3 separate regions of the Homo sapiens genome follow, and all the other regions are reported to be linked to region 1. The links are microRNA targets in miRTarBase. Many come from high-throughput screens and were not tested one by one. Region 1 holds a microRNA gene; each other region holds the end of a gene's coding sequence.

Evidence for each region. The annotated mature microRNA hsa-miR-143-5p reads GGUGCAGUGCUGCAUCUCUGGU and lies in region 1 at 2,469-2,490, opposite strand. An mRNA with a match to its seed (bases 2 to 7 or 8) in the 3' UTR can be bound and repressed. Matches are read on the target gene's strand: a 7mer-m8 pairs with bases 2 to 8, a 7mer-A1 pairs with bases 2 to 7 and ends in A, and an 8mer does both.
Region 2: miRTarBase lists ZNF106 as a target of hsa-miR-143-5p. Seed matches in the 3' UTR shown: 7mer-m8 at 1,861-1,867, 7mer-m8 at 2,477-2,483 and 7mer-m8 at 3,867-3,873.
Region 3: the mRNA of LYRM4 is a reported target of hsa-miR-143-5p. The part of its 3' UTR that is shown has no 7-base or 8-base seed match.

The regions. Positions count from the first base shown.
Region 1 is chr5:149,424,145-149,431,433 of GRCh38, reverse strand. It overlaps MIR143 (microRNA 143), which reads right to left and starts at 2,516; the gene lies at 2,411-2,516. It overlaps CARMN (cardiac mesoderm enhancer-associated non-coding RNA), which reads right to left. Exons shown (of 5, transcript NR_105060.1): 3 at 7,037-7,289; 4 at 2,395-2,551. MIR145 (microRNA 145) reads right to left here and starts at 788; the gene lies at 701-788. RefSeq lists enhancers at 154-448, 5,921-7,289.
Region 2 is chr15:42,410,656-42,417,655 of GRCh38, reverse strand. ZNF106 (zinc finger protein 106) reads left to right here. Exons shown (of 22, transcript NM_001366845.3): 22 at 296-4,833. The coding sequence ends at 352. CAPN3 (calpain 3) reads right to left here. Exons shown (of 24, transcript NM_000070.3): 21 at 6,990-7,000; 22 at 6,656-6,772; 23 at 6,311-6,369; 24 at 5,339-5,909. The coding sequence ends at 5,883. Among named protein-coding and RNA genes, the nearest start is that of CAPN3, 55 kb to the right of the region's middle.
Region 3 is chr6:5,103,513-5,110,801 of GRCh38, forward strand. LYRM4 (LYR motif containing 4) reads right to left here. Exons shown (of 3, transcript NM_020408.6): 3 at 4,907-5,979. The coding sequence ends at 5,911. All of the region lies in intron 3 of LYRM4-AS1 (LYRM4 antisense RNA 1), which reads left to right. Among named protein-coding and RNA genes, the nearest start is that of PPP1R3G, 22 kb to the left of the region's middle.

The sequences.
Region 1 (7,289 bases):
CTGGTGGTGCAACAATGGAGAGGGTTTCAGTAGTCACTGGCTCAAAAGTGAGGGGGCAAAAGGAACCTCAGTGTGTGTGTGTGTGTGTGTGTGTGTGTGTGTGTGTCCAACGTCTTGTAGCAAGGTTAGCAATCACCATGTGTAGGGGAAGAGCCATAGTGTTCCTAGGGTGGGTAGAGATGCCACAAGAGGGCGTTCTGAGTTTTCATCTTCTCTACCTTGAAAAATTTTCCATTTGTTCTCTGGCTGCATTCCAAATCGAACGAAGACTTAAGGTTTTTAGTTTACCTAACTGATTGAATACACTTTTAAAATGAATTCATGTGTGTTTACTAGTTTATCAGTCATGTGGATGCAATACCGCAGCCCCTGTCGCAAGGCGCGTTGGGAAGTGGGTTGAGGGTGTGGTGGAGACAAGAAACGCATGCCTGATGGTGTCCTGGTTCAACCGCTGCTCAGCCGGGTGGCCTTGGACAAATTTCCCAAGAGTACGGCAGTGCTGAAGTTCCCACATCCAGCCTCACAGGGATGTTATGAAATAGACACGATGGAAAGAAAAGCAACGCAAAGGTTTGGAACATGGTTCATAAGCCCTCTTACCTCCAGGGACAGCCTTCTTCTTGAACCCTCATCCTGTGAGCCAGCCGAGGCCCCATTGGGGGGCAACTGTGGGGTGGGAAGGAGGCAAATCCAGCTGTGAAACCATGACCTCAAGAACAGTATTTCCAGGAATCCCCATCTTAGCATCTAAGGGATTCCTGGGAAAACTGGACCGTGAGGACAAGGTGGGAGCGAGTGGCCTTCAGCGCCAAGGCCGCCGTGTCCCTAAGGACCAGCTGGAGTTCTCTTCTGCATCCAGCCCCATCTGTAGCAGCCAGGGTGGGGTGCCACACGTCGCCGGATGTGGCTTATTGCTCTGGGGGGGAGTAGTGACCGGAACTTCAATTGCCCTGAAAAGTACCGGAAACCCTCTGGCGCCCCCACCCCCAGGACTGCCCTCTGCTGTCTGCACGGCTCATGTGTATTCCCCAGTCTCCTGCCAGAGGGGTGGATTTAAACCAACCATTCAGTTCCTAGCCTGGGTTTGGCAACTTCCTCTCTGATAACCTCCAGTAAGTCACTTAACCCCTGAGCCTTGGCCTTCTTTAATTATAAAATGCATGAGTCCACGACCTACTGGAGAGGTGAGATGAATAAGATTGGGGGAAGGGGGTAGGAGGAAGGAAGCCTGTAGTATTAATGGCAAGTGTCCGGGTCTGTCTTTGCTAAAAGTGACCTGAGATGTAAAGACAAGATGGGAGCAGAATTTAGAATGTTCTCCTCCTGCTCCTCGGTCCCAGGTTCCATAATCACATGCAATGGGTAAAAACATGGATTTGAAGGCAGATTAGGGTACAATCTCAGCTCAGCACAATCAATATGTGACTTTAGGTGAGCTGCTTAAATAAGCCTCAGTTTTTCTCATCTGTAAAATGGGGCTATAACACCACCCACTTCCCAAGCTTTTGGGGAGGTTAAATGAGACTGTGCTTGGCTCCATGGCTCTCCTCTGCTGCTCATTGTGCTTCTGAAGCCTCTGGGAGAAGTCAGACATTTGTGACGTGCCTGGACTGGTTTCGGCAATACCCCGGAGCCAAGGTTAGAAGTACAGAGTGAAGACCCTGACTCAAAGGCCAGAATTTTTATCTTCAGGGCTGAAAGGGTTTTTAGGAATTGTTTGATCCACAAATGATGAATGAGTTTCAGCTGTGAATCAGTACTAGTGGCTTTCCAGGGCTCATTGTTGAGGATTCTGAAGCTGCATCTGAGCACTTCAAGAATGGATGCCTGGCGGGGCGTGGAGGCTCATGCCTGTAATCCCAGCACTTTGGGAGGCCGAGGCGGGCAGATCACCTGAAGTCAGGAGTTTGAGACCAGCCTGGCCAACATAGTGAAACCCCATCTCTACTAAAAATACAAAAATTAGCCAGGTGTGGTGGCGCACACCTGTAATCTCAGCTACTTGGGAGGCTGAGGCACGAGAATTGCTTGACCCTGGGAGGAGGAGGTTGCAGTGAGCTGAGATTATGCCACTGCACTCCAGCCTGGGTGATGGAGTGAGACTGTGTCTCAAAAAAAAAAGAATATATGCCTTTACTGATTAGCTGTGTCTGCCATGGGCTCAGAAAGAGAAAGCAGAGGCAGGGTGCTGGGGAAATGCTAACGCCTCATGCTAAGATGGACACACTGGGGTACACAGAGGAGTCAGGACATGCCCAGACTCGTGAAGCAGATCGTGGCACCAGGGGAACTTGTGTAGAGGAACTTCCCCAGCATCACAAGTGGCTGATAGTATGGAGTCTGGAAACACTCTGTCCTTCCTGTTATGGCCCCCCACAACCCCCCAGCACTTACCACTTCCAGGCTGATGGCTGCAGAACAACTTCTCTCTTCCTGAGCTACAGTGCTTCATCTCAGACTCCCAACTGACCAGAGATGCAGCACTGCACCTCAGGCTGGGAGACAGGGCGCTGCGCTGCTCCGCTCTGGTGGCCTGTGGCGGGACTCCAACCTGGCCAGGAGAAGGGGTGTTAGAGGGGACCTGGGCTCCACCTCTCCAGCTCTGGCCGGGAGGCTGTTGTAATTCCTCACAACTGTGTTTCCTGTCTGTGGCCTGCCATTTGAGCACCCAGGACCAAACCTTGACCTTTTTTCTCTTCTTTTCTTTGTTTCTTTCCTTTTCTTGTCAAGAACAGCTTAATTTAGAAGGAGGACATTTAGTGAGTACAATTAACAGGTTTTTAATATATTCACAAAGTTGTGCAAACAATGGCACAATATATTTTAGGTTATTTCACCATCCAAAAAAGAAGCTCCTTATCCTTAGACAACCCCTAGTCCTGGGCAGACCAGTTTCTATCTCTATAGATCTGTCTATATATTTTCTGGATATTTCAATACATGGAATTATTTAATATGTTGACCTACCTTTTGATGCCATGCCCCACCTTTATGCTTGGCGCATTCCAGCCTAACAGCATCATTCATGGTACTTAACATTTTATATCATCGAGCAATCAATTGTCTCCAACCTATCTTTCTTCTGCCACTCCTCCTCTCTTCCCAGCCATCTTCCCATAATGATTTTTCAAGATGCAAATATGCTCATATCTTACTCAAGTTTAATATCCCAAAAGGGCTCCCCATTGCCCTCAGGCTGAATTCTGAAGCCCTTCCCAAAGCCTGCGAGGGTCTGCCGCATCTAGCCCCAGTGACCTCTTCCTCTTGGGCTACAGCTCATAGATGTCCTTCCATTCTCCTAGGGAGCCCTGTGCCCACCCACTTCGGGCTCCCAGGGACTGTGCTGCTCCCCGTCACTCTCCCTGCCCATCTCTTCCTCCTGTGCTAGGTCTCTAATCAAGTGGCCACTCTGGGAAACCCTCCTTGACTTTTTTTTTTTTTTGAGACAGAGTCTCCCTCTGTCGCCCAGGCTGGAGTGCAGTGACACGATCTCGGCTCACTGCAAACTCCACCTTCCGGGTTAAAGCAATTCTCATGCCCCAGCCTCCCAAGTAGCTGGGACTACAGGCGTGCACCACCATGCCTGGCTAATTTTTGTATTTTTAGTAGAGACAGGGTTTCACCACGTTGCCCAGGCTGGTCTAGAACTCCTGACCTCAGGTGATCCACCCGCCTTGGTCTCCCAAAGTGCTGGGATTATAGGCATGAACCACAGTGCCCAGCCCCTCCTTTACTTCTTTAGCCATCAGCACCCCCTGCTTCATGTTCTCGCCCACCCGGTGCCCTCTTTCTAACCCTTTACCATGCTGGTAATGTGGTTTTCACTTACGACCACCTCCACTTGTGGACTACATGGCTCACCTGTGAAGGGAAGGGACCCTGTCAACTGTGCTCACTACTGAAATCAGGGCCAGGTGGTGTAGATGCCACATAAGCCCAGGTTGAATGGCTGAATCATAATTCCCAATCTCATTATCTCTAGTATCAGTGTTATTTGTGTGTGGGTCTGACCTGGCTAGATCTCCACTTCCTGAGGACAGTGCCTGTGTCTTGTTAATTTGGGGGGCCCTGGGTCTGACCTGTGGCTTGGTACATGATGATGGACCTAGGTAATGCCATTTGGTGGCTGATTGGATGACCATGTAGATAATTCATTTTGTTTTCTGGGCCCGGCTTGGGTGGGAACTTTCAGGTGAGCAGGCAAAGCCCCTTCTCACTCTTCCTGCCCTGCCAAGATCTCAGGGCACCCCAGAGGACCTTCTTGCATTGCTTAGTGGTCACTGTGGTGGCCTTGATGTTGGATGACATATATTTTCAGGAATGTCTGAAGGGGATGGGTAGCCTTTCTTCAGGGCTGAGAGAGAACAGAAAAAATATACCTCCTTAAAAAAACAAAAACAGAGCTGGGAGCAGTGCTCATGCCTGTAATCCTAGCACTTTGGGAGGCTCAGGCAGGAGGATCGCTTGAGCCTAGAGTTCAAGATCAGCCTGGGCAACATGGGGAGCCCTTGTCTCTAATAAAAAAAAAAAAAAAGGCTGGGAGCAGTGGCTTACACCTGTAATCCCAACCCTTTGGGAGGCCAAGGTAGGCGGATCACCTGAGGTTGGGAGTTCGAGACCAGCCCGGCCAACATGGTGAAACCCTGTCTCTACTAAAAATACAAAAATTAGCCAGGCGTGGTGGCGGGAGCCTGTAATCCCAGCTACCTGGGAGGCTGAGGCAGGAGAATGGTTTGAACCCGGGGAGGTGGAGGTTGCAGTGAGCCGAGATCTTGCCATTGCACTCCAGCCTGGGTGACAGAGTGAGACTCCGTCTCAAAAAAAAAAAAAAAAGTCTGTCTCTTACACTCAGTCTGGGAAGAGTGGAAAGAGTGTTTCCCTCTGGTCTATCATGCCAGCAGGCAGGTCAGTAGGTCAGTTCTGACAGCCTGTGTAGAGGACAGCCTCTGTCTAAGGTATTCCCAGCCAGATAACTGCTTTCCTCTTCTGTGGAATTATCTTGCAGAAACTCTTTTCAACTGCATTTGGTGGCTGGGCACAGTGGCTCACGCCTGTAATCCTGAGCACTTTGGGAAGCCGAGGCAGGTGGATCGCTTGAGCCCAGGAGTTCAAGACCAGCCTGGGCAACACGATGAAATCCTGTCTCTATCCAAAAATACGAAAAATTAGCCAGTCTCATAGCCTGGTCTCTACATAAATAAATAAATAGATTTTTTAAAACCGTGCATTTGGCTGGGGAGTGATTCCGACATTGGACTCCCTCGCAGGTCACAGACAGCTGGTCTATTCCACTCTCCACGGCTCCCACTGCCCCTGAGAGAGAAGAGCTTAGTGTGGTCAGCAAAGAGATTTCAATAAGAATCAGGGAGGGTTATCCTGGAAAAGAGATGATTTGCTGCTGAGAACTAAGCTGACAAGGTGTGTCCTCTGCCTTCACTTGGTGCGTGATTATTTCCAAAGCCCTTTCACATAAACTACCTTTGGCTTCTCACGTGCAGCTGGTGGGTAAGTGGTTTTGGGGAGTTTGTAGTCTCTGCTGGGAGACAGGACACAACAGAATGGAAAGCGAATTGACAGGGAGCATTCTGTTGTGGAATGGATCAGTTGCTCCCTGTGAATTTGCTTTCAGTCCTATTTACCGTGGGGTACAAAGCCTCAGTTTGCTGCTATCATGTCTTTGACACCTTTCTAACTCTCACTTATTGCCCAGGCTTCAGGCCCAGGGCCTTGCAAGCCACACTATCAGGTTAAACCATAATAACATTGTTTCATTTTTACTGTATTTATGGTTACCTTTATTTCCTAATTAGGCACAGTGTTAGAGTTTGCTATTTACAGTAGCTATTTCTATGTGTAATAAAAAGGACTCATCCTACATTTAAAAATATTATAATCATTTGCAGACATGGAAGAAATAAAATAGGGGGCATCTGAATGACTGAGTTTGGAAAACAGAGTCCGATACCATTTAATCATCAGAATGGCTGGTGCTGCTGGCAAGGGAATGTTATTGCTCCTACATGGAGGACCAGGAAGGGGATTGTTCCAGGGTCACAGGGCCTGAGCTTGGACCAGAGGAGTTGAAGACCATTTCCACCAAGGCCATTTCCATTCCAAGATGTAGGCTAAGATTATTGCAGCAAAGATAGCATCTCCCCTAGGTTTAGAAACGAGAACTAGATGGGAGGTAGTCCCATGCTTCTGAAGGAGAAACTGATGCAGGGAGAAGGGCTGAGGCACAGCCTCTGACCAGGGGAAGGTGTTTGCCTCCATCTCCTCTGTGGCCCTTGAATCTGCTTGCCCCTTGCTGTTGGTGCCTCGTTCTGTTCCTTTGTGTCTGGAATAATCATCGTGATAATGAATGTAATAAGCACAATCATTTGTGGAATTTTATAGTCCTGGATATTGAATGTTTTCTTTGTGCAAGTCCTTGTGCATCCACAAAGCTCCATGGGAAGGGAATTTTCCAAGGGTACAGAGCTGAGAACTGAGCTGGGGTTCCTAACCCAGGGCCCTCGTTTTAACCTCTACGCTGAATGTCTCATGCCCTGTCCAATTGGCCAGGCCTTGGTTTGGGGGCAGGGTCTAATCATTTCACCTGTCCCTTCAGCGCACTGCCTCTTCTATGTGCCAAGGGGAAGTGGGACTGAGAGCCTCGCTGTCCTTGACCTGGAGGACCTCGGTCAGATTGAGTAGAAGGAAAATTCCCCTCACAAGGTGAATAGGGGGCAGACTCAAGTGGGATGAGGAGAGAGAGAGAGAGAGAGCCCAAGAAAGGACAGCCAAGCACACCTGGAGGACAAAAAGGTTCCCACCCCTGGGGAAGCTGAGAAGGCTTCCTGGAGGAGGAGTCAGTGCAGCTGGGCTATGAGGAGGGGCAGAGGGGCCGGGAGGGAGGTGCTTCTCCTGGCTCCAGCAGCTCTTCCCTTGAGTCTTGCATACTTAGCACTTGTCCCAACCCCTGCCTCCTTCACATGAGGGCCTTACTGAGAAGAGGGGTCTATGGCCACCCCCCACCCCGCCCCATTCCACTTACCCCACCAAAGGCTCCCTCCTACTCTGGATCCCCAGTCAGGATGAGAGACACCGCTTGGGGGTCCCAGGTTCCACTTCTTAACGAGGCCCTTCTTTCTGTGGCTGCTTCCCCTTCTGTGAAAGGTGATGTTGAACCAGGTGGCCTCAGTTTTACCTGGCGGCTCTGGGTGCCGGCTCCCGGCAGTGTGGGGGACAGCTCCTGGGTGGATGGGCTGTTTCTGCCTCTGTGTTCCCCATGTCTTCAGGAAATGTCT
Region 2 (7,000 bases), not on the chromosome of region 1:
AATGAAGTTGCAAATGAAGAATTAGGTCATTTTTGAGAAAGGGCCTAAAGAGAATGTTTTCAGATGTTTCAAATCCAGTAACTGAACCTGGAGATTTATTACAGTGCTCTTGTGCTGAGACAACAGCTCACCTTTAAGTACATGGTTTCACGTAAGTTAGCAAAGTGCTGGCTCCTAACTGCCTTTCCTGTCTGGATCCTAGGTGGAATGGACCCACATGGCTTTCCTTGGCTTTGACTTTCTCCTGTCTTACTATCGACTTCTCTCTCATGGGCCCTTTTCCCTTCATTCCTAGGATGCTGCAGGACATATTGAACGACATGCTGAAGATGACAGCAAAATTGATTCATGAAGTTTTTTGCCTCCCACGTTGGGAAGTCATTAGTTGAACTATTTTCACATTGGCCCCCCACACAGGCCACTCTCTTCCCTTTCTTGGTGAAGTAAGGAAGGAGAAAGTGGTTACTAGCCAGGCATACCCCTAGCATAAGTCTGGGCAGCTCTATGGGATGATAAATTACACTTTTAAGTTCTTGCTGGAGGTTTTAAATAGATTTAGACAAATGTTAAGGAACCATACTTCTCTGGGACAGCATGGCATATAGTGATATATGCTATTTGCGTTCTCCAGATGTTTATTGAAGATACAGATCCTAATTGGTTACCCAGTTTGACCCTAATCATATGTATATTTTATTGATTTCAGTTTGCAATTTTTAATTTATGTTCTTATGATGGTTTAAACCTATAGTCAGGCTTTTAAGTACAAGTTTGTTTAAGTGCCAGACTTTGAGGATCAGTTTTAATTTCTCCATTTGTAATAGCTGGGTATTTAAACTGGAAGCAAATAGTTTTCTTTCTTAACAATTATGTGCAGTGTGTGTCACTGTTTTCTTGCTTTATAGATAGAGCTGGCTTTAAGTGCTAAAGGACACAGTAGATTTTTGACAAACAGTGGCTGCTCTGCTGACTATCTTTTAGGAATTCAGGAAGCAAATCACATAGTGACAAGTCCTTACAGACACCACTTCTAGTAAATCTCTGTAAATGTGGATAGAAAGCTCAGTGTGAGGCAGTGCGTAGACCTAACGTCTACCTTTACATCTGCTGTTGAACCTGGGCACTACCTGTTACAGATCCTGTCAGGCTGTTGAACTGGAGGTGTACCTTTATCTTCCTTTCTAGTGTCTGACCCTGCAAGCCTAATGTTGGTTTGAACCCTTTTGGTTTGTTCAGTTGCCAGCCTCCATCTCTCCCACTGTATGGCCGTGCCTAGACCGATGGCAGCCATCGAATATTCCTCTGGGCTCACGGGGTGTTTTCCACCCCCCTGCAGCAACTAAGATGGTGGGGGAGAGGGGGTTAGAATAAAGCATCTGAATACAGTTTTCAGGACCTCAAGCAGACTTCCTAGAGACTTGTTTCTGAGACAGTTCTTTGCCTTCACTTCCCTGCTAGCTGGGAAAGAAGAGTGGAGCAGAGACTCTGCCTGGCCACTGAGAACAGCCAAATTCACAAACCCTCAGTGGGGCTTTGTTTTTGGATTTTCTCCGGACTCATCAGTAAACCTGTAGAAGTGTCGCTTTCCAGCCTTTTGTTTCTGGATCCTCAAAACTCAGAACGTGGCCGGGCGTGGTGGCTCACGCCTGTAATCCCAGCACTTTGGGAGGCTGAGGCAGGCAGATCACCTGAGGCTAGGAGTTGCAGACCAGCCTGGCCAACATGGCAAAACCCCGTCTCTACTAAAAATACAAAAAGCCGGGCGTGGTGGGCGCCTGTAATCCCAGCTGCTCAGGAGGCTGAGGCAGGAGAATCGCTTGAACCCGGGAGGCAGAGATTGCAGTAAGCTGAGATCGTGCCACTGCACTCCAGCCTGGTGACAGAGTGAGACTCCGTCTCAAAAAAAAAAAAAAAAACTCAGCTTCTTCAGAGAGATAAAATTGGGGGAGGAGCCCAGGGCCACATACCAAGCTTTGGGACATGGTGCCTCATGCTCTCTGGGATTGCAGACCATCCAGGTCTGTCTTCGCCCCTGTTAGTGCACATATATCCACTCACATGTCTTCCCTCAGGCTATCGGGCAGGGGGACTTCACCAGGGGGTTTATGGATAGGCTTCAAGAGGGTCTGTGAGCCCCCAGAAATTGTGTGTGAGACTGAGTATGTGTTCTTTTTTCCAGGAAAGGCTCCAGTGGTTCTTACTTGATCCAAAAAATGTCAAGAATTAATCTAGGAGGCCGGGCCTGGTGGCTCACACCTGTAATCCCAGCTCTTTGGGAGGCCGAGGCGGGTGGATCACTCAAGGTCAGGCATTTGAGACCAGCCTGGCCAACATAGTGAAACCCCGTCTCTATTAAAAATACAAAAATTAGCTGGGTGTGGTGGTATGTGCCTGTAGTCTCAGCTACTCAGGAGGCTGAGACAGGAGAATCACTTGAACCCTGGAGGTAGAAGTTGCAGTGAGCCAAGATCATACTACTGCACTCCAGCCTGGGCGACAAGAGTGAAACTCCACCTCAAAAAAAAAAAAAAAAGAGTTAATCTAGGAGATAATGAATGGCCTAGTACTAGATAATATATGGCCCCACAAGCTCTTGACTTCTGTCCTTGGGGAAAGCCATTTTGTTAACCACACTAGTGAGATTTACATGATGCTTAATGGAGAACAGAGAAGATCTTGTTGCAAAAGGTGTATTAAATATTTGTGCTGTTTCTGTATGAGATTGAGAAGCTTTTCCCACCTCTCACCCCTATTTCCTATAAGGATATCCAGAGAAGCCAAACTGTTCTGTGGGTTTGGGAATGGTCATTTCCCGGGAAAATGCATCTGGATCGATGACTAAACCTGGCCCTTTTCTCTGGGCTGTAGTGAAGCCGCATTTTCACGCTGGCTGGCAGTGTGCTGAGAGCCTCGAATGCTCTGCGGCGTAGTGCCCTTCTGCCCTGCCTGACGATGTATCGAAAAGATGAGAGTGAAGGAGACTTTGTGCAGCAGGAAACGGGTAGGTGAGGTGTTGGGCAGTTGTGGGAACTTCTGAGAGTATTACAGAGTGGTAGAATCGGTAAGAACTCTGATTTGGACTTCGCTTTGGTGGAACTGTGTGCCTATACCTGCCTGTGTGTGTGCAAGTGTGCAGGTTCCTTTGTATGTATGTGTACGTGTGGGAACCTGTGTTTGTCATATTTTTCTTCATTTCACAAAGGCTTTTTTTGAAGCAGTGGCAGTATGCCTTTGTTTCAAGAACACATGAAATTCTTTTAACACCAGATTAGTGTGTTACCCCAAATGAACGGTTCTAGCCCTCTATTAAGAAATAAAGGGACCATAAGCATTTTGGCTGCTTATGGCTGTGTGTTACTACTTACAAGAGTCTTGAAAATTATACAGAACTTTGCCTTCTTTTTTTAATGTCTTCCACAATGTTGTGACTGATTATAACCCTGTTTCCCCTCAGAGAAGAGCTATGGCTCAGGGATCTGTGTTGACTCTGGCATTTAGTGGCTTTGTGAAGGAAAGAAACCATTAAATGACCTGACAAAAACTGACTCATGTCTTTAAAGTAGTTGAAGCCACTTTTAGAATGTTACTCTCGGTTGCTTTTGTCTAATTCTAATGGCTTAAAGCCAAGAAAACCATAGTATAAATCTTTTTGTGTACCTATGCTAGTGTTTAAATGGCAGTTCGTTGTGATAAAGTATCAGTCACTTCAAGTTTTCTGTGAAAGTTTTTAATTAGGTTAAAAATAATTTTGGCATACGTCTCTACTCAGTTTATAAAGCAGTTCCACACCATGCAAACAAAACTCTAACAGCAAAGGTTATCTTGACCTGATGTTACTTGAATCTGAGAGAAAGTCATTACTTACTACTGCACTCCTGCTTTTGTGGGAAAAATTTTCTTCTTCCCCAGAAGAGTTAACAGTTGAGTGTTCAGCTCCTGACTTACCTTTAATTTAGAGGCAATATTATTACTGTTTAAGTGATTATTTGCTTAACACAGGTTTTATTTTGTCTTTTTGCTGGTAGATTATACAAGGGACAACTTTAGTGATGAGGCATGTGGATGATTTGGTGGGAGTAGGTATATACTTAGTGGAATGGTTTATTTTATGGAAGAGAATTCATTGGAGGTGAGATTGAAGTATATTGTGAAGTGGGATTTGAACAGCACATATGCTCTGGTTTGCTCAAATAACTGCAGTTTATGCTTACATCTAAATTTTGTTTCTGTTACCTAAACGGGAGCTTCTAGAATTACGAAGGCCATACCTGCCACATTTATAAAATAATGGTTTTATCCCTGCCCCCAAATCATCAGGTTCCTCGGGTTTAAGAGAAGTGGTCTAATAGACAGGAATAGAAGTTGTGGTGGAGGTGATTTGGGATAGACTAGGTTTCCTTATGCAAGTGGATATGAGCTCCTCATAGAAACCAGACCTACTGTATTAGACAGTAACCTCTAACCTCACCTCCAAGCCCAAGTATATGGCCCTGCTGGGTTACCTGGTGACTACATTTCCCAGATTCACTCTAAATTCAAGGTAGTGACCCAAATAAATTGGGAAAGGAGGGGGTCAAGGAGGAAAAGCTGTTGAAAATCTTTCTCCTATTTAAGAGAAATATATGCCCTAGAGCTGCTCCAGCACCCTTGGTTTCTGATTTTTTTAATATTGAATATGGATTAGAAGAATGAAATCAGATGACACCTGACTGCAAAAATGTTTATAAGCAAATAGCCTTCTTACATTTTGGTATAAAGCTGTGAACTTCGTAACTTTGTAAAGCAAGATATAAAGCAAATACAAGAGGAAAATAAAGTACTTTTACTAATTGACGGTTTACTTTCGTTACCTTGTCTGCATATTCACGGCCAGCCCTTTCCACGTTGGCTTAGCGAGGAAGAAGGAAACTGGGTGGAAAACACAGGATGCCTATAGATATGCCGCAGGCCATGGTCCAGAGAAGTTTAGCAAACAAACAGCTGCGTTCAGGGTTTTGTCCACGGTCATGCGACAGGTCAGTTAGTGAGCAGAGGAGCTAGGATAGCTCAATCTCCACTCCATTATTCAGGTAACCGGCCCCTCCCGTTGTACATGACCCATTTATTCTTGATGTCTTTTACAGCAACAACTATTCCTCTGCCTTCCTTTTATGTCTTGGAAAGTATCTGAGCCATTCTTATGCTCAAGAAATAGCAATAGGCATGATTACAAAATTCAAGATTTTGTTTTTGTGTGTGTTTTTCATTGTTCTCTTGTAGGTGATAGGTGAGTATATGATTGGAAGCCATTCAGTCATGCATGGCTGATATCTAAATGTGAGACAACAAAACACAAGGGGACCAGCCATACACATGCCTTTATTTAGATCAGCTTTTTTCAAAATGCAGCCAAACTTATGAGTTGGACAGCCCAAAGTAACCAGCCCTATTCCACTGAGTTAGTTTACCCCACAGCAGTAGAACCCAGTGCTGGTTTGGTTCCTGGCCCATGGTGGGACAGCGTGAAGGTGATGGAGGGCTCTAGCACAAGGAGGTGCTGAGTGCCACCGGCAGGTGCTTCTGCAGACAGCCTAGAGCAAGGTAAGCAGGAGCACTCGCTTCAGAACCGAGGCGGCTCGGACCAGAGGCAGGCACTTTCCTCCACATGGCAAAGGGACAAGGGTTTGTTCTTCCTACCTCATTGCTTTACTAAAGGGTCAGGCTAGGCATGACCGATCAAGGATGGGTAGGGGGTAAAATGGAGGAGGAGCATGACTGATGAGGTGCCTGGAAGCCTGTAGGGGTGTAGCTGCTGGGTCCTTTGAGGTAAATGGCTTTGGAAATAGAGGGTGAAACTGAAATCCTGAGTGATCCTGCATGGCTTTGGATGAGGCCAGCCTGGTTCAGGCATACATGGTGAGCTGCAGCCACTGAAAGAAGTCCCAAGATCAGAATGTAGATCAGAAAAGAGTGACCCCCCCCCCCCCCGCCCTAGGAATCTTACGGGGCAAGAGGAAAGGGAACAGTCCCAGCAGGTCAGACCCCCAGAAGATTTTCCAAGAAGCAGTGGCTTACTGTTTCCTTTCTCCTAGATCTTCCCTAAGAAGGTGCATGTTTTCCCGCATCAAGTGACTGGGGGAGCAGAGGTCCTTTTGGGCCTCAAGTGCATGTGTCCTGGGAGCCTGCTGAGCCTCCCTCCATGTTCTGTTCCTATCCCTTCCCTCCACCACTGTGTGGAAATGAGGAGCACACCCTGGGTCCAGTCCGCCCCGTTGACCCCTCCACCTTGAGTTTTAATGTGTAGGGGGAATGTGCTGTGCCTATGCTTTACCTCCAGAACGTTGAGCTTGATGATACCATCTCCATCCTTGTCAAATGCATGAAAAGCTCCTGTGAAAGAATGCACAGGCCAGAGGCCAGTTACAGGCGCACTCCGCCTCTACTACTGTAACTTCCCCTCAGAGGACCATGTGCCCAGTGCTGTCCCTCATCAGCACAAAGATGTGCAGGCAGAGAATCACCAGTAACCCTCCCTTTGCCATCCCATTCTGGGCCTAAAGAGGTCATTGGCCCTTGTTCAGCCTGGATGGAGCAGACTGGAGATTATCAGGTGAGATGCCTGTTGCCACAACTGCCCCTGCAAGAGAGCAGAGGGCAGCCCCCCTCTCCCACTTACTGAACATGCCCTCCAGCCTAACGAAGCAGCAGATGAAACTGTCAAAGTCGATGTTCATGTGTTTGTCTGCGTACCGCATGGTAATGATGTCATAGAGCTGGTTGTTGAGGTGGAATCCTGTGGAGGGGACCATGTTAGAGGTGGACGTGGAGCTGGAGGCCTTGGGCCTGCCTTCTATTTTCCCTGCCTCTCGGCCACTCTGTGACCTGGGAAGGGAAAGTGAGAAGCCCTTTCCCTCTCCTTTCTCTAGTGGGGCCCTAGTAGCCTAGTCCCCTCCCATTCCTGCTCCCACCGTCTCGGGTCCACATCCCTGCCACCCCTTCCTTCTCAGCACCTGCGTCGTTG
Region 3 (7,289 bases), not on the chromosome of region 1:
ATCCACGACTGTGGGCAGGTCCTTGGGGACAGGGAAGCTTTCTCCTTCTGCTTTTTGATCCGTTATCTTTTCTTCAGCTTCTGCTGTTATTTATAGGTTCGCTTCAATATCTGAGATATTTTTTTTTTTTTTTTTTTTTTTGAGACAAGAGTCTCACTCTGTCACCCAGGCTGGAGTTCAGTGGCGTGATCCCGGCTCATTGCAACCTCTGCCTCTGGCTTCAAGCAATTCTCTGCCTCAGTCTCCTGAGTAGCTGGGATTACAGGCGCCCACTGCCACGCCTGGCTAATTTTTTTTGTATCTTTAGGAGAGATGGGGTTTCACCATGTTGGCCAGGCTGGTCTTGAACTCCTGACATCGTGGTCCATCCACCTCGGCTTCCCAAAGTGCTGGGATTACAGGTGTGAGCCACCACACCTGGAGGAGATATTCTTTAATCTAGAAAGCAAATACTAGTTTATATGAAGTACTTAGCAAAAAAAAAAAAAAAAGCTAATTTTCTACAAATGTATATTTTCTGTATACTTGTTGATATTTTACTGTGCTTTTATTTTCAGTCTTAGAAACAGGCAGCCAATATATAGAGCAACCTTCCTCAAACTTTTAATGTTAATCTCATGACCAAAGTAGAGAATCTCCCCCCACCAGCCCTCCTCTTCCAATCGAACTTACACACAAAGAGCTTTGCCTAAAGCAGGAAGTTATTTGCTCTACAGAGTTACGGGTAAAATCTTTATAAGGGTCTTTCGAGTTGTTTTATCCCAGTTATTTTTTTTTTTTTAGACAGGGTATCACTCTGTCATCCAGGCTGGAGTGCAGTGGTGCGATCATGGCTCACTGCAACCTCCGCCTTCCAGGCTCAAGTGATCCTCCCACCTCAGGCTCCAGAGTAGCTAGGACAACAGTTGCATGCCACCACACCCAGCTAATTTTTGTATTTTCTGTATAGACAGGGTTTCACTATGTTGCCCAGGCTGGTCTCGAACTCCTGAGCTCAAGTGATCTGCCCACTTCGGCCTCTCAAAGTGCTGAGATTACCAGGTATGAGCCACCACACCCAACTCCAGTGATTTTTAAAAATTATTAAATGGATAAACAATTTCCTGGGAAGAAAAGAGCTACCCTTTCTCTACTTTGAAGAAAAGATAAATTCATCGAGTCTGGGCTTTCTGTTTGAAGTTGAGGTTGTTCGAAGTCAGCAGTGGGGACAAAATTCCAGACAGTGGCTGCTCCTGTCTGGTCTCAGCCAGAGCCCCTTCTTAGTTCCTCAGGCCCTGCTCCTGAGACTCCTCCTAGACTCCCTGCAGCCCTCAGGCCTGGTCTCCTCATCCAATCAATCACCAAGTTCTGCTGACTCGACTTTTTCTTTTCTTTCTGGTTGGCCAGCCCTTCCATCTGTAGGACACGTGATGACTGTTTCGACTGTTTCTCCAGGACTTGTTCTCTAAAGGGAGTGACCAGTATTCTGAAGATATTTGTGGAAATGTCCCCATACAGGAGACCTGCAGTTTTGGCCGTTTGTCTGCCTACTCTTTGGTTTGCTATGTGGCCCTGAGAAAGTAATACATTAATACATTAATACAGAGATGCTCTCTGTATTAGTTTGCTGTTACTTCATAATAATCTACCTCCAAACTCAGTGACTAATGTAACAGTTAATTATTTAGCACATGTCTGAGGGGTGGCTGAATATGACTGACCTAAGCTAGACCAGGCTAGGGGACTCTGTGGACTTTCTCGCGCATCGGCAGGTGGGCTGGGGAGCTCGGGCTGTGCTCAGCTGGGGCAGCTCTGCTCCAGGTTTCCTGTCCTCCTTCAATGGCGGCCCACCCCAGCCAGTTCTCAGGGTGATGCTGACTCTGCTTCTGTTCAGCTGTTGCCTCTTGGTGAAGTCACCATCGCTTGCCTGGAATGCCACACCCAATCCCCCACTCCTCCGAAAAGCTGGTCTCCCTGCATCTCTCCCAGTGTATCCCCTCAAAAGCAGACAATGTGACCTTTTAAAAAATACAAACTTCGGTCGGGGGCGGTGGCTCACGCCTGTAATCCCAGCACTTTGGGAGGCCGAGGCAGGCGGATCATCTGGGGTCAGGAGTTCAAGAGCAGCCTGGCCAACATGGCGAAATCCTGTGTCTACTAAAAAATATAAAACTTAGCTGGGCATGGTGGCGTGCGCCTGTAGTCCCAGCTACTCAGGAGGCTGAGGCAGGAGAATTGCTTGAACCCGGGAGGCAGAGGTTGTAGTGAGCTGAGATTATGCCACTGCACTCCAGCCTGGGCAACAGAGCGAGACTCTGTCTCAAAAAAACAAAACAAAACAAAACAAAAACCTCATCTTGCCTAAAAACTCCCGAGTTGCTCACCATCCTTAGGCTGAGGCTCCAAGGCCGTCCACGATGTGGAAAGAGCCCTCTTCCTTGGCTGCCACCATCCCAGACTCCCTTTAGTTCTTTGCATGGAACTACCCTCTCCCCCAATTAAGGGCTTTGCATGTGCTGTTCCTCCTGCCTAGAGAGCTCCTCTCCCCACCTTCACACAGCCAATCCTCATCATTAATTTGCACGTGTAAATATCCCCTGGGGAGCCCTTCCCTGGCCCGTCCCATCGGCTCTGGCAGCACTCATATTTCCCTCTTTGTAACATTCATAAGACTTGTCATTTTCTTCTCAGATTTCCCTGCTAGACACAGGCTTTATGAAGGTACGTCTGTCTTGTTCACTGGTTGCTCCCTGGCACCTGGCACCTGGCACTAGGTGGCCTTAGTCAATACTGAGTGAATAAATGAATGAGTGAAAGGGGTTTAGGGGAAAGGCCCTGACTCTGTACGTGATCTGCAGATGTTCAGGCTCTTTGTTTTAACACCTGAAGATTTGAGGGTTGGACTAGGTGAGCTCTGATGTTTGTCATCTTTGTAGGCTTCACCCTCTGCCTGTCCCTTTTGCTCCTGGATGATGGTGGGTTGTATGGTGGGGCTTGAGATTAACGGGAGAGGCTGTGGATGAAGGGAGTTAAAGGTCACTGCTACTTAGTTAGCAGCAGGACGGAGTATACCTAAAGCAATCTAGCCAATTCTTTCAGTTCCAAAATCCAGATTCCAACAGCCATCAGAACAACACAGCCCTGTACTTGGCCGTGCAAGATCTCCCAGCTATTATGTCATGACAGCCAGCCCAGCCCAGAGCTGTCTCTGAAAGTCTAGGATATAGCCTTGCTCGGCCAATGAGTTCTGCCTGGGAAGTTAACTAATGATAGTAGTTCTCATTTGCTCAATATTAGTGCTGCAAAGTGATCTCCAGACCCCAGCCCGGATCCTATCTTCAAAGCAGGCACAAGTTCTAGAGAGTTCTGTGAGGCTGGCCATGATGGATGTTGGAGTTGCCCACATTCCCCTCAGTTGGTGCATAGTCAAGGAGGTGGAATACTTCCCTAGAGAAACACCAGGGGTCACCCCCATGGGAATGCCACTTTATTCGAAGCTCTAGCATCAATATTGGGTCATCTCAGTTGGGGAGTACCCAGTGCCAGGCTCTGCCTGCCAGATATACACCTGAAAGGTGGAGGACCAAGGCCTGTTTGTGGCGTTTCCTGCCACAGAATTCGGATTTGTATCTTTCTGCAGATTCCAAAGGCATAGTTAATTTTACAAAATTAAGTCTGCATTAGCAAGGCTTTGGGCATGTTCAAACCCATTCATGCAGTTTAATGAACACAAAAGCAACCTGCTGTTACAGCCTGCAGCCCACGTTAAGTTTGGGTGGACTGCCTCATTGCGTAAAACCTGGGGGAGTGGGAGAAGTCTCCTCTGGAGCTGTTATCTTGCCGGCAATTTGATGCCTTCAGCACGGAGGTTCAAATCTGGACTTCGGTTCCAAGTAGCAGTTGCTTAAATTAAGTATAAATCAGCAGTGCCGTGCGTTAGTAGCGTGGTTGGATGCATTCACTGCTGAGTGACCACGAACTCCACTGCACTGATGCAAGGTGGAAAACCTGAGCCAGAGCCACACACAGGGCTGGGCTGGGCGGCTCTGCCCCGTGACAGTCAGCTGAAGGGAGTGATTATACTTGCCACATCACCTCCGTTCACTGTCCACCGAACAGCTCTCCCCCAATTAGGGCTTTGCATATGCTCTAACACTGCAGCTCCCAGGCAGGAACTGGTTAGAGGGTAAGAGATCTGGGACTTGCTAAGAGCTTCATTATTTTCACAGATGCTCAGGACTTTATCCTGAAATTGGCAGGGGGTGGTGGTTCATGCCTGTAATACCAGCACTTTGGGGGGCCGAGGAGTTCAAGACCAGCCTGGCCAACATAGTGAAACCCCGTCTCTATTAAAAATACAAAAAATTAGCTGGGCGTGGTGGCAGGCCCCTGTAATCCCAGCTACTCGGGAGGCTGAGGCAGGAGAATGGCTTGAACCCAGGAGGTGGAGGTTGCAGTGAGCCAAGATCGCACCGCTGCACTCCAGCCTGGGTGACAGAGCGAGACTCCATCTCAAAAAAAAAGACTTTATCCTGAAATCAAAAGTTGTACTGCCAAATAGAATGGCTACACGTTACATCTATTTGAACGCATCATTGCAGCAAATCTATGCTCTCTAAAAGCGACTGGAAGACATGAGTTCTCATATGAGGGTGAGAAGAACACGGGCTCAGACAGTGCGTACTCACTCCCATGACCGTCGGAGTTAAAATGAGGGGGTGACAGTGCTGCAGCTATTCCAGGACCGGTGCTATTTATAGGAGCCTGTTCCAAACCTTAACCCACAGATACCAAATCCACTGAGCACTGTATGCAAAGGGAAACAAGAAACCGCTCTGCCAGGTCTGGTCCCTCGTAAACTCCCCAGATGACAAGCAAGTTATTTAATATGTTCTTTCTATGTTTGGAATGAATCTGTTTCCAAGAATAAAAGCATACAAACAATATCTTTATTACCTGTAATATACTTAAAGAGCAGGGGTCCCCAGTTGGTTAAACATTGAAAACAGTGGGAGAGCTTCAGAATAGAGAAAAATGACTGTGCCTCACCCCTCACTTACTGAGTCAGAATCTGCAGAGAGGGAAGTGCTGAGAGATGTCTTTTTAAAAAGCTCTCCAACTCTCCAGGTGCTTCTGTCCACCAGCCAGATTTGGGCACCGGTGCTGCCCAGCATGCCCCAGGCTTCAGGGTATGGGAGTCGCCCTGGGCTTGGGTCAGGCTGGGGCTCTCTCATTCACCAGGTGTGGGGAGGGGCTTGAGCCTGCATTTCCAGCAAATTCCCAGGTGGGGCTGAGGTTGCTGATCTGCAGTGCTCCATCTCTGGGTGTGTACCTACACACCCGTCACCTTTGTTGTACTGGGCTCAGGTATAAGTTGCAGGGTGCACCGTGTATCCCCGTAGCCCTGCCCTACTCCATGCTGCCCCCAGTCTCAAGTGGTGCTTGAACTTGCCTTCACCAAGGCAGTTCTCGTCTCAGAGTTGAACCCTCCCTGAGGGCCCCCAACAGCCCTCTCCAGGCCTTGTATCAGTAGGAAATGAAAATGCATTAATTGGGAGGGGTTTATCTGGGGTCAAAGGCTCAGGGAGATCATTCTTTTTATTGCCAAGGACCAAGAAACAAAGTGTAGAAATGCTATACACAATGGTCATGAGCTACAAGGTAGGAATGGGGTGCAGGGGAGACGTGGTAACACACAGCACTATTCTGAACGAACTCCAGCTCTCCATTCTAACACTTGAACCAAGGAAAGACAGCAGTCCTTTTTCACTAAGCCTGCAACAGAATGCAAATGTGACTTGGTTTATCAGCTCCCACAGGACAGGCAGCGCAAAAGGCTATTGTAAGCTGGTTTTGGGAGCCCCCATCTCAAACAGAGAGTGGATGCTGAAGGTGGTCCCTGGCCGCCACTGGTGGCTGGTCCCCGGCTTGCTAGGTCCTGGGCATGTCTCGATTCTCAATGATCAGCTTGTCAGTTGAATACAGTTGGCCAATGTGGACCTGAAGGCAAAGAAAGGACACAGGTCAGGAACCGTGGCCCTCTAGCCCCTGGGAAAGGCCAGAAGGAACATTTCCTAACATTTCTAATACAAACGTCGGCCATCCCAGGGCTGCTCCCTTCCGGCAACTGCACTGCGGGGCAAAGCCGGCCACTAGAGCACCATCCAACCCCCGTTTCCCTCACTGTGAGAAGTTACAGAGATCCACACACCCATTCCTCCCCTCTGAAACAGCACAGGAGGCTGCAGCCTGGGACTCGGGGCTGTGCTGAGCTGGGTGACGCCTGCCTGCTGGTGGCAGAGCTGTCAGATGTGTGCCCAGTACCTCCTCTCCTAAGAGGGCTTCCTTCCCTTAGAACTGATTCTCGCATAGGGAAGGGGTTTTAGAACAGTGCAGAAATGGGCGCCGTCTATGCTGGGGTAGGAAAAGCGCTGCATTCAGGGCAATGCAGACACCTGTCCGTGGCCCATCCCGGGTGGGGTCGAGGGCAGTTGTCTGAGTGCCTGCACCTCCTGCCTTCTATCTTTCCTGCCCCCTTCTTTTTAAAGTGTCCTTTTTATTAAGTGTCTTAATGCCCAATGTTTCCACTGTCCCAGGTGGATGCTGGAGCCATCCTCTGGGGCTAGAGCAGGTCTTTCCTCTGCAACAAAGGGTCTTGCCACAGTTTTTCTGTAAAGCATTTCCTGAGTGATACATTTTTAAGAACAAGTGGAATGGGTGAAGGAAGGGCTGATCATTAGCAACTCTATCTGGATTTCAGACCAGTTGGTCACTATCTATGGGTAATTCGGGGTGAGTAACTGCTGTTTAAGCAAACAGAGCAGCCAGGGGTCAACATCCTCATGGTTTTCCTCCCCGATCTTAGTGCTCTATTTCGAAGTGAAGGCCCCGGACAGAAGGCGATCATGTCATTACTACAGCATGTGTTAAAGAGCAGTGCTCTGTCACCAAGGACCGCCGCGCCGTCCATCTGAGGTGTCCTGTTTTCCATGCCATTTGCTCGGTCTTCAGTCTGCCCTTGCACAGAGGTATCTTGAAGGTCCGTGGCATGGATAATAACTAAGTGTTGCGGTGCAAGAGAAAGCGAAGGAAGAGGCGAGAGCAGCACGTCATCTAAGAAGAACGAGAAGTAGACAGTGGAGATATGGGGGATGGGGGGATCTTGCAGGTATTTTTAAATGCAAGTGAATGTCCTAATTAAAAACCAAAAGAGGTAGGTAGGAGTTATGGGAAGGGGGTGTAGAGAATGAGTGCTCCTAACAAGTCACAGTGATGAGCTTTGCTACTGTGTCTTCAGTCGTCCTTTCCTC